Linked DNA regions of Homo sapiens: region 2 is linked to region 1. Evidence: fine-mapped expression QTL. A gene starts in region 1. The other region holds a variant in brackets. All regions are shown on one strand. Distances are from middle to middle.

Evidence for each region. PIP is the estimated chance that this variant, and not a neighbour inherited with it, causes the effect.
Region 2: its variant is fine-mapped to the expression of F13A1 in monocytes after LPS (Fairfax 2014, PIP 0.95).

What each region holds. Positions count from the first base shown.
Region 1 is chr6:6,318,872-6,321,783 of GRCh38, forward strand. F13A1 (coagulation factor XIII A chain) reads right to left here and starts at 1,791. Exons shown (of 15, transcript NM_000129.4): 1 at 1,716-1,791. The region is part of intron 1 of LOC124901253 (a long non-coding RNA gene); the gene reads left to right.
Region 2 is chr6:5,693,316-5,696,227 of GRCh38, forward strand. The region is part of intron 6 of FARS2 (phenylalanyl-tRNA synthetase 2, mitochondrial); the gene reads left to right. LOC101927950 (a long non-coding RNA gene) reads right to left here and starts at 1,957. Exons shown (of 4, transcript NR_110842.1): 1 at 1,830-1,957; 2 at 1,567-1,693. The variant T/C (reference allele first, on the strand shown) is at 1,165.

The DNA.
Region 1 (2,912 bases):
CCCCAAGGATCTTGGGGAGATTTTTGTATGTGTCAAAACATATGGAAAGCAGAAGAAAAGGGGCTTATTCAAAGAAATTTAAAAATTAAAAGATTTTTGGAGACCCAGATTCCCCCACCCTCCATAATCCTACAGCAGCATCTTCGCAAGAAATGTTTCCTGTTATATGCATGTGCTGTATCTATGTTCATTTCATACAGATTTATGAGATTATAAGTCACTTTTAAGAATAAACGCACACAACCATGTCCAGACAAATGTTGTCTTCTAAAGCGTTTACATTTGCAATTTAATTCAACCAATATTTATTGAGGGCCTATGACATGCCAGGCTGTGATCTAGGTACATGGGATACATCAGAGAACAAAACAGAATGTTTGCTCTGATAGATTATAGTCTGATAGGGTTAGGGTGGAGCCCAAGAAGAGCCATAAGTAAATCCACTTAGGGGTGAGGAGGTAGGAACTGCTTTGGAAATTGAGCCACATGGAGGAGGATAAGGAGGTGGAGAGGTTGGGCATGCAATTTTCAATAGGGCTATCAATAGGCTTAAGAAGTCAGGGTTGCCAACATTTCCCATTCCCCAAGCCTGCTTCCCCTTCCCTTGGAGCTTGTGCAGGCACTGAGCCAGTTTAAACAACACACACCTGACGGTCAGTGCCCAGTAAGTACTTGTTGACCAAATGACCAAATGAAGGGGGACTTTGTTTCTGGGCCCAGTGAAGGTTCCCCCTTGATCCCCTGGATTACCCAGTCATGACTCCTGGAGACTTGGCTATTTTCAAAAACCAGGCACACCCCCAAGAGGTGAAGAGTCCCCATTATAGAGGCCACCAGAGTAGAGAGATGGTTCCAGAGACATGTGGAGCACTAACAACATGCTGGAGAAAAGACAACCACGCCTAAGGTGTCTGGTCTGAGAAGGAGACAGGAGTGTTTGGATGCATAAGGTGTGAATGGGTATCCATAAGTATAGATAAATATATTTACAGTCATTGGTGAGCTGACGGGGGAAGGGAGGGAGAAGAGCGAAAAAGGGTTAATGATAGGGAGAAGGCTGCGAGAGCCATCCTCTAGTGAGAAATACCGAAGGTAGGCTGCGGCATTGCCAGGGGTGCAGAACAGTGTGGCGCGCTGTCGGGAGACACAGTGCTAAGGGGGAGAAGGGGGGAGCCCCAGGTGCACGCCTGGCTGGGTGAGTGCGGCGGGCAGGAGCCCTCGCTTCTGGGCGGGTCTAAGGAGGAGAAGTGGCTCGAGTTCAGCTCCAAATTGGGACGGAGGCAGGCGATGCGCAGGAGTGGGGAGGCGCGCAGGAGTGGGGAGCCAAGCCGGCGGGGTTCCAGTCTAGCAGGCTGTTCTCACTTGGCCCCACTCCCTCCACCTTTTGTGTTCCAGCTCCATAATCTGCTCCCTGAGGAAAGGGGGCTCGTCCCTTGGGGAAGCACCTCCAACTCCCCCATCCCCATTTGGTGGCATTCTAAGCAAGCAACGGCTTCGGGAGAGCTGCCTCGAGAGCCTGAGAGAAGTCCCGCTTAGAAGCTGGGCTGGGCAGGTGCGGAGTTGGGGGCGGGAAGCCAGGATTGGGCAAGTGGAGCTGCCTGTGACCGGCGCCACAGGGCCCAGAGCAAGCCGCTTGCTGGTTCAACCAGGAAACCGAGGTGCAGAAGGTGGACGCAGCGGGCCCTGGCTCATAGGGTGCAGGGTCGGTGGCTTACCTGCAGGCGCTCCCCTCCAGAGGTGCCCTCGCGTGGGCTTGCTCTGTGCGCCTCGGGGACTTCCTCAAACGGACTCGGGAAAGACAAGACAGTTGGCTCTTAAATAACTTCCTAAGAGGAGCCCTCACCCTCCTCCCCTGTCCCACAGGGTTTTCTCCTCCCCCTTCTCCACAGCTGGAGCCAGTAGGGGAGCTCAGAGGATTTTCTATTTACTTCATCTGGCCTGTTATCCCGGCAGGTGCGCCCTTCTCTCCCACTTGCCCCTCTGACTCCCAATTTCCCATTCCCACTTCTCCTCCCCATCCCCATCCCTAGATCTGCCCTCCCCACCGCAACCAGTTGCTGGGAGTACCAGGCAAGGGGCCCTGCAGTGCCAGGAAGTCCCCACCCGTCCCCTTTGGTCAGAGGGTCTGGGAGGGTTTCCTTTACAAAGGAATGCTTTTGCCTGGCAGGTCAGCTGCTACTGTGGCTTGGCAGGAGGGGGGTCTGCCCTCCCACAGACAGGTCACACAGACAGTTGTGACCATGCATGCAGTGAGAGCAACGTGTCCCTCCTGTGCAAATAAGGCATGGTCTGCATTCCTGAATCATCCCAGAGCCACAGCCACCGCCTAACCACAAGACTTCCTGCAGGAATGGGATGCCTAGCCCCAAGGAAGATGAGTAAACATCTTTAATAATGCCATGCAGATTAGAAAATAACACTTGGTTTTCTCTGAAAATCATTTTAGTGCATGTTCAAAAATTAGAAAATTTTCCCCCTAAAATTTTAATTTTTTTCTTTTACTCTTTCTTTCTTTCTTTCTTTCATCTTTCTATCTTTCAGATGAAGTCTTGCTCTGTTGCAAAGGCTGGAGTGCAACCTCCACCTCCCGGGTTCAAGTGATTCTTCTGCCTCAGCCTCCCAAGTAGCTGGAACTACAGGTGCATGCCACCATGCCCGCCTAATTTTTGTATTTTTAGTAGAGATGGGGCTTTACCATGTTGGCCAGGCTGGTCTCGAACTTCTGACCTCAGGTGATCCACCCTCCTTGGCTTCCCAAAGTGTTGGGATTACAGGCGTGAGCCACCGCACCCAGTCAAACATGGCTATTTCTAACCTTCTTTACTGTCTTCAAATTTCTGACCCTGCCACTCAATCTCCCAATGTTATAAAGAAGAAAAAAAAAGATGCCATTGGTTAGAAATTCTCTCAAT
Region 2 (2,912 bases), 630 kb before region 1:
CACCAGATCTGCCCCCTCACCACTAATCCTGGAGCAGCCTGATGACTTATGGGGAATCCATTGCTTAGCTTTGATGTAGGGAGGGAGAGATGAACGACTGCCTCCCAAAGCGTGGCTGCTGAGCAGGATATTAATGGGCAAGGCGGCTAATGCGTTTGCATTGTTCTGCAGAAGTTTTGCACTGCTTTGGGGAATCATTTATCCTTAGCAGTTGCAAGGTGGCCTGTTTTCAAGTAAACCTAGAGTAAAAATCTGGTTATCTATTGCCATGTAACAAACTGCCTCAAAACTTTGTGACATAAAGCACTGATTTTATTGTGCTCACGTGTCCTTGTCTCCATTCTGTGATGCTGGGGCCTTGTCTGGGAAGACTCGAAGACTGGGAGTGACTGCTTGGCTAGGCTGGGATGAGGCATCTTTACTTACACATCTGGCACTGGACGCTGGCTGGCTGCTGGGACTTGCTGGGGTGATGGCTGGAGAACATTTCACCTCTCCAAGCGGCCTGGCCTTCCTTACTGCAGTGTCTTCTGAATTGTTAGCTTCCTTATATGGTAGCAAGTGTGCAAGTCAGCAGGTGGAAGCTCCGCTATCTTTGTCACCTAGCCTCAGAAGTCACATAGCATCATTTCCACCGCCCTCTACTAGCGGGAGCAGTCATAAAAGCCCACCCATTTTCAAGGCAAGAGGTCATAGCCTGCGCCTCTCAAAGGGAGGATTGTCAAAGCCGCACTGGAAGATCATGTAAGTTGGATGATAGCATTGCTGCTGTATTTGAGAGATTGTGCTGTGCTCTATGTAGAGGTTTCTGTAGGAAATAAACAAGTTGAGTTCTCTGGTGAAAACACATCTGAAAACATGTTAATAGGAATATAGCTAATCCTTAGCATTTCTTATAGTAGCTAAGGTCAGTGTATGCTAGGCCTGGTACCTGAGCAGCAGTCTTGATGCTAAGTTAACAACAGGTAGCCAACAGGAGTGTTTTCTAGCTATTTGGAAATTGAAATTCAACCAAAAAAGCTACTGCCACTCTGAATCAGTTACATCATGATACCTTAGATCTAGGCTACCTTTTTTCCTGAATAATAGAAGGTTACATTGATTAGAAATTATGGGGAAAGTAGATTCCTTCATATAAGAATTGGTTAAAGTTTGACTCTGTTC[T/C]CTGTTAAAGTAAGCAGCTTTTTAAATAATTGAGTTCTTTGGAGGAGTTTTTATATTTTATATATTTTTTACCTATTTAGCCATGATAAATAGAATCAGATAAGAGACCGAGTGTGAATATTCAGCACGACCTTCAACCAGGTGTATATATTTCTCTCTATGTTCTAAAGGACTCAGCAATGTGTAGTGCCTATGAGTTCTCATTTGAAAAAGGAGGAATCCTATATGGAATGCCATGTAACGGCCAGGTGCAGTGGCTCATACCTATAATCCCAGCCCTTTGGAGGCCTAGGCAGGAGGATTGCTTCAGGCCGGGAGTTTGAGATCAGCCTGGCAACATAGTGAGAACCCCCCACACCTCTACAAAAAAAAAAAAAATTAGCCAAACTTGCTGGCACGCACCTGTAGTCCTGGCCATTGGGGAGGCTAAGGTGTGAGGATCGTTTGAGCCCTGGAAGAGTTCGAGGCCGCAGTGAGCTATGCTCACACTATTGCACTACAGCCTGGGTGATAGAGCAAGACCCCATCTCTAAAAGAAAAAAACAGATATATATAAATGCCATGTAAGCTTTTACACTTGTATTTCTTGTCTCAATTCTGGTTTTTTCTTGAGCAATTTCTTCTTTTCATTCTCATGAAAGTTAAGGTGATGACGCTGTGCTTACCCACAAACTGTGTATCCACGTAGCCTTCACTGCCATTTGTCCTGAGCCTTTTCAAGAAGCATAAATCCCAGAATGATCGAAACATCTCTTAGATCCCAGAGTGACTTAAGATCCATGCTAGGAATTAATCCTGCTTCCTAGGAAGTTACACAACAGCAGCATTTGTGGCAGTGCCACAGCAAGCCAGGGACTGGCCCACGGGCGGTACGCTGTCATTCCCAGTGCTTTCTCTGCCTTCCAGAGAAACAGGAATTTGCCACATGTCTGTGACTCATTTGCTGGAGCTGTTAAGTGGTGATGGTGTTTAAAATCTCAGGGAAGTAAAGCCACCATTTACTGAACACTTCCTGTGTGCCGTGCACTCAGTTGTAACCACATTATTTTACTTGGTCTTGACGAGAAGCCTTTAAAGGCACTTTTATTATCCCAATTTTACAGATGAGGAAATTGAAGTTCTGGGAGGATGAGTAACTTGTAGAAGGTCACACCATATATAAGTAATGGACCCAGCCTCTCCAACTACTCTCAGCTGATTATAGAGATTAAATTAGAAGCAGTTCTTCCTTTCTTGGAAAAGTAAACCTAATGGGGAACTCAGAAGCCATAAAGGAAAAGAGTGATTAATTTAGCCACGTAAACATTTAAGGCTTCTGCTCAACAAACCGCACCAAAAAATTGGATCAGGAATGTATAACAAACTAGTGGGTGGGGAAGGAGACTGCCAGGCTGTGATAAAAGGCCAATTTTTTAAAACATAACAAAAAACTCTTCAACAGTCGGTGAGCACGAGACATACAGACTGCTGTGAACATGGGACAGGATGCTCAGCCTCACTCATGATTAGAGAAATACAAATTATTTGCTGCAAATGACATTTTCAGCTGTAGGTTTGACAAAGATTTTAGAAGTGGATAATGTTCAGTGCTGTCAAGCGTGCAGGACAACAGGTACCCTCCATCTACATTGTCTGTGGACATGCAAATCGGTACAACTCTATATTAAAACTGAAAATACACACTCTTTGACTCAGCATTTATTTATTCCACAAATATTTTAATATAGGTATTCAAAGATACGGGTACT